2 linked regions of the Homo sapiens genome follow. The protein of the gene in region 2 purifies or fractionates together with the protein of the main gene of each other region. This does not show direct contact. Each region holds a gene or a part of one and is shown on either strand. Other genes may lie near its edges.

Region 1 (2,502 bases), on a different chromosome or scaffold from region 2:
TGGTGGGAGGATTGAAAGGGATGACCTTCTAGTAACATGATTTTGTTGTGTGGCCAAAGGTATTTTACAGTAATTATGTTCAAAAATATTTCCAGTACTTGCACCGTTTGCCACCTTAAATGAATAGTGAACACTATTGCTATCCACCTGAAACCTTCAGCTGTTAATTTTAGCAAAGCAGTTCTTAGATGTTTCAACATTACCAGTTTAAATTCTTAAGAATCCATATAAATGGTTTATTATAATTCCAAAAGTGAGTGACTTTACAATTTTACAGGGGTGAACATATAAGGGAAATGGTGAAGCAAATCAATGATATCCGCAATCATGTAAACTTCTGACACCACCAGGAGCTGACTCACACCTGAACTGAACACCATTGAAGGCTTAAACCCATATTGTAAAACAGGTAGAATTATCTAATTTATAAAAAGGTGTTTTGATGACCTTTGGTGTGGTTCATCTTTTTAAATATGTTGTTTTATAATAATTGAGTAAATGCTTTTATTTAAAATTTGGAATGTGCTTTATAACTCAAGCCTACAGTTGTGTTCAGCAAGGACTCAGGATTATTTCACACTGCACACTGCCAGAACCTCCCTGAACCCTATTGAGTTTTCTCCATATTTGAGCAAGTTAGTTATTCTTGTGAGCTGTGTTTTAAAGTAGCAGCACCAGAAACATGACTCTGAAGAGGGATAGAACCCTAGGATTCAAAGGAGAAGACCACACAGTGTACTTGGCAGCAGCTTTTTTAATTTGAACACTTTCTTCTTGAGGACACACCTTCAGTACAGTTAACAAATGGTTACACCTGAAATCTGCTGAGAGCAGAGCTCAAGATCCACAATTGCAAAGGCCACTGCTGGCTCACTTCCTCACAAGCTGTATTACCTTTCAGAGCTGAGTGAGGCTGTGCTCTACGTCCCAATACTTGTTACTGAGTGGACATGAGGTGCAAGTTTAGCACCTTAAAGGGAGAAAAAAATAGGTTAGTATGCAGAATGTGATTTTGTCCTCACTTCACCTTAAGTCATCTTTTTACACTTGCCAATGTGAGTTCTGAAAGGTACTACTATATCTGCTTAGAAATGGCTGAGTGACTGTCAATTAAAAGCCACATGATAAGGTAGGTTACAGGTAAGAGGTAAATCAGGTTAGACATGCATGAGAACATGTAGGCACAGACTGAATATAAGCACAGGAACACTCGTGAAACCCAACTGAGCTTTTCTTTTGCCTAGAAGGGCTAAATCCTGCCTTCTACATCAGTTCCCATTTATGCTGAAAACCCAGTTGAAAGAATTGTTTCCTACCTGGACAGTGACACAGTAGTTTGTTTCATACCAGAAACACATTGCTAAACAAAACTTAAGAGTCTCAGTTTGGGTTTTTCTACAATAAAGTGAATTCCAACAGTTGGCATTTGCCACAGTAGAGACCACTAACCATTCCCTAATTGTGATGATTTTATTACCCAGCACCATCTTCTGGAGAAAAATATCTGTAAGGTGCTCAGTCTCAGCAGAACACTTCACTGCAAGCTCTAGTTCAGTCAGTTCAGAAAGGCTGTGAATTGCCCACCCTGATTTACAGCACTAATTTTAATAATCTGAAGACAAATTCGCTTGGGGCTTATCCAAGGGACTAGTCTTAAACCTACGTAATTTAAATTGATTGCATTTTATAATTAATAAAATCCCCTGTAACTCAATAGTTATATGTTTCCTTTATCTAAACCATGTAGCACTCTTTATAAAGGGACTTTAAACCAATTAAAATAATGTTTCATGTGCGGCAAGCCTTTAGTACTATTTCCATAATTGGTATTTATTTTTAAATTCATAACCATGAATGCAAGACTACAATAATAACCCAAGAGATGAGGTATGTAGTACTTATCATTTGTCCTATGGAAGACAGAAGTACAGAAGATCTTTAGGGTAAGTCCATAGTGACCTCATTTATAACAAAGACAATTCACTTTAAGTTGATGGTGGCGTTATGTGAACAAAACAATCTACCTAGTTCACTAACTCCCAGAAGGCTCTTTCAGGTACCCTGCTGTTATGCAACCAGTCTCAAAAATGATTTGAAAACCATCTTACTTTTGAACCTCCTGGATGATGAATCCATCCACTGGATATTCCTGGGACAGTACTCTCAGCAGGTATTGATGAACATGAATCAATTCTTTGTGCTTTCTGTAGCACTTCATAAAGTTATGGCAAAGACCTGTTTCACTGAGGCTTTCTTCACACAGGAAAGGAATCTAATGCTTGTAAAATGACAAGACAGATTTCCAATTCTAACTAACTGGCTTTCCATAAGCATTGTCACTTACTTACATTCCAGGTCTGAATTCAAAAGAAAAATACAAAGTATCTGTCAACCTAGTTACCATTTTTGTATTTGACACATTTGAAACAAGTAGTACGTAAGCCTAATGATCCAAGTTGAAAAATTAGCCTATTTAAAAACGTATACTAATGTTTTTCACTG
Region 2 (3,837 bases):
TATATCTTAATATAAAATAATGTATCAGCAAGGATTCCAAACACAATCTATTCTTTTAAACATTATTTAATCTGATTAAATGTATTTCAAGGTTTGCTACTCTTCAGATCACAGAGAAGTACTTAACTCATAAGCTGTGTCACTGTATAGAGCCACTAAGACATCAGAGATCTGTGACTTTCACATTACAAAGCTATTGAATCATGACAACTGTTATTTTCCTATGATATACTTCTGATGTGTTTTTAATGTGCTTAATATATAAGGACAACTCCCCACAAGATTTATAAAGGCAACAAAATCTACTCAACAGGTATTATTCATGTGAACATTTTATAAATCCTGAAAGGGTTTTCCAAAGTGCTACCTAAACAGTAGGTCAATCTCCATTTAAAATTGAAATGCAAAGCCTAATCTTGAAAAACTACATGCCTTTCAGGGGAACACTGGAAGCAGCCTTTGGAGGCATCCTCAGAAACAATAAGTTTAATATGCCAACTAGAACTAATTGATTAAATTCAGAGTTAACATTGCTTTCGAAATGTATAATCTCTGGGAACTAATTATTACTCATTCTTTTCTTAAATTTACTTTTCTTCAGCCTGGCCAACATTGCTCTAAAATGTCAACTAAGCATATAGAAGTAGGAATGAAGGAGAAAAAAACATACATGCAATACTTTGGGTTATCTGCCCTGGAGTATTACTTTTTCTTTATTGGAAAGAACACATATGATCATTTCTTTTGAGAAGCAAAGAAATATGGACGTCAAGTGTCCCTTTAAATTATCTTTTAGATAAATATATGGCTGTGGGCAATATTGATGAGGCTTTCCTTAAGACAGAGCACCAACATGGAGCTATGAAACACGAGAAAGCATTCAAGACCAGCCAATAAAGCATTTCCTACCTCCTTCCCAAGTACTAGAGAGCTCAATTTTATTTTATACTGCAAGTTAATGGTGGGCAGGAAACAAACATATTTAAAGCACACCCCTATGAAAAGAAAGGTTTACAATGAATTATCACCACATGTAAAAAGAGTTCTGTATAACAAAGCTATTTCCATGTCCCCAGGGGGTGACCCAGAAAAAAAGAGTGCTTTGACCTGGTTATAACAAACTCTCTCTCTCGGTAACCTATCCTGGTCTTTAACAAATTATTACTCTCAAAGGTTTTCCTTCTAGCAAACCTAAATCCTCACTTTTAGAGATGTTCAAGTTCATTTCCTTTTTTTGAGGAGCCATTTTACTGAAGCTGAGTCAAGAAGAAAAAATTAATAACGGTATTCAAAAGAAATAACAATATGAAAGTAGGTTTATTGTAAGAGTTTTGAAAAATAGCTCTGGTATGAAAGGCTTAAAAATAGCAAGTTATATTTGGATACTCTTCTTACCTAAACAGTATGTCAATCTCCATTTAAAATTGAAACAAAGTAGTGTCAGTATTTGGAGCCTCTGGTAAAAGAGGCAATACTTAGTACTTAAATCTGAGGTACTAAAGTGTCATGAAAAGCTGTCCTTCTAGAACAGCTAAATTCAGTAATATGCTGCCTGAAAAACTTGCAGAGCAAACTGATATTGTATAAATTCCAAACTATTTATCTGAATCATGAATCAGGTCCAACTCTCACAGTATTTACTTTGTCTAAACTTCATTGTGACTTCATCTATGACCTACAGGAGTACCCTGTGACACAGTAGGCCACAGGTGCTTCCATTAAGATCTTAAAAGTAGGACTCAAAGCTCAAAAGAAATCCGCAGTTCCAAGGACCTTTCGAAGACAATGAAAAAGGCATGAATATGATGATTATTTGTCTTCTGACATCTCTCAAATCTTTCTTCATGCAATTCTCTGCTAACTTTTAACCTGGTTTCCTATTTCTTTTGGTTTCTGGCCTACCCCACCCTGTAGCTTCTTGAGAAAATATTTTTATGATTCCTGATCCCTCCCTACCTCTTTAGAGAGCAGGCTTCTAGTCAACTTCACTAATATGTTCTTAATAGTACACAGGCTGTGGAGTGGCAAAAATGTAGAGCAACATTGAAAGTATATACCCTATACTCTTTAGGGTACAATGTCGTGTGAATTATTTTTATCTCAAGCAAACTGGCATCCTATATAGTAGAGACTAGTAAAGATGTGCAAAAACACCTGAAAGAATCATCATCTTCAGTAGAGCGTAGTGGCTTTAGGAATGTAGATTTCTTCTAACACACAACACATTCATGTGCATTAGTTTCAATTCTTTCATAGAAATCATGTGAACCAAGGTTAAAAAGATACACCAACGGGTAGAACTTATCATCAAACGAAGCCACTTCTACATTCTTTTGCAAAAAGTACAAACATGTTTAAAAAATAAATACATTAGACAGATGCTCATTATGCACCCAGCAAAAGCAGAACCCAATATTCAAGCCATTTTTGAAAATTAACCTTTGCTTTGAAAAGCAAAGGTACACCCATCAGGTTCTTAATATTTAAGAAAAAAATAAGCTCATCAGTCTTTTAAAAAGTAGTAAAGCCTTTGAGCTGATTAGTACTATAAATAAGTCACTCTTATAAACAAATACTCCAGTACATAAACAGTTCAAGTCTTTCCACACAGAAGTATCACACAGCCTATAAGAAACCTTAATTTTCTTGGTAGAAATCCCTCTGAAAATAAATAGGGATGTCTTGCAAATGTCACTGGCTTCATCTTATAATGCTGTGTTTTAAAAATAAAGGCTTGCTTCTCAAATCAAATTTTCATAACCTTAGTACTAACAAAGCCTCAGAATCATTTTGTGAGGTCTGATGGTGTGCCATTGTAGGGCATGGGAGGGGATTCAATAAGCGACTACGAGACAGCTTTTATCAACACATCCCAGTCAATGCTGAGCCTGATATGCTATTGGAGAGAGCGACTGAGTGTTTTCCCCACAGGCTGTAACTGATTATTGACTCCTCCCATTAGCATGTGGGGTGCATATTGAAGGTTCAAACACAAGGCTGAGGGACTCCTGTCCCTAGGCCAGTGCTGAAAGACAGCCTATCACTTCGTGTAACTGCAGTCCATGTGTGACAAACCTGACCTACATTTCCCTCTTTCTTTCTCATAACAGCTTGTCACTGTTTTAAAAAGCTATTTTCTAAAAAGCATAAAAGAAATGACTTTTAAAATTGCTTAGGTAATGTGCATTCCTAAAATATCATTTATACCAATCACAAGGAATAGTTTATCATGAAGATAATCATGAAACCCAGCCTAAAATGAGCTCAAAGACAGCAGAGTGCTTTATGATGTCATCTGATATATAGTATCTTCATTTGGATTGTCATTTATACTGTATAGTCTTAAAAGTACAATTAAAATGTTAATCCATATTTATTTTAATAAAAAGTTTTTAAACATATAAAGCATATTAGTTAGTAATGTGTAATTAAACATTTTTCAAATGTTATAAAAAGTAGCTTTCAAGGCTTCACAAGAAGCCACATCCTAGTAGTTTTGTTAACTTCTCAATGGATACACAATAGTCACTGCTAAGAATAGGGCATAATTAAAAACAGTGATGGAGGGGAGGAATAAAGGCAACAATAACACTTGGTGCAAATGCTGGAAAATGCTCCCCAGGAATGGCTGCAGAGTGTGCTTCTAAGAGTTGCCGATGTGCTGTGGCTCCTCAACACAAGCACCTACCACACCGCTGCAGGTCATACTCTCTTTTTGTCTCTTCATTTCCTAGAATTTTCCATGCTTGATCAATTTCGATGAACTTCTGTACACATTCCTCCACTGTTCCTGCTGGTACATCTGTACTTTGTTTATCTGGATGATACTGCCAATCA

What was found.
Region 1: the proteins of DNAJC24 (region 2) and NUP88 purify together in Homo sapiens (affinity purification with mass spectrometry; one large-scale study listed by BioGRID and IntAct). This does not show direct contact.

The regions. Positions count from the first base shown.
Region 1 is NC_000017.11:5,384,045-5,386,546, reverse strand, and holds the end of NUP88 (nuclear pore complex protein Nup88), read left to right. Parts: intron 1-206; exon of another isoform or gene 207-277; coding exon 278-341; 3' UTR 342-1,714; downstream 1,715-2,502. UniProt on the Homo sapiens protein: Component of nuclear pore complex.
Region 2 is NC_000011.10:31,414,801-31,418,637, reverse strand, and holds part of DNAJC24 (dnaJ homolog subfamily C member 24), read right to left. Parts: intron 3,828-3,837; coding exon 3,689-3,827; intron 1-3,688. UniProt on the Homo sapiens protein: Stimulates the ATPase activity of several Hsp70-type chaperones. This ability is enhanced by iron-binding. The iron-bound form is redox-active and can function as electron carrier.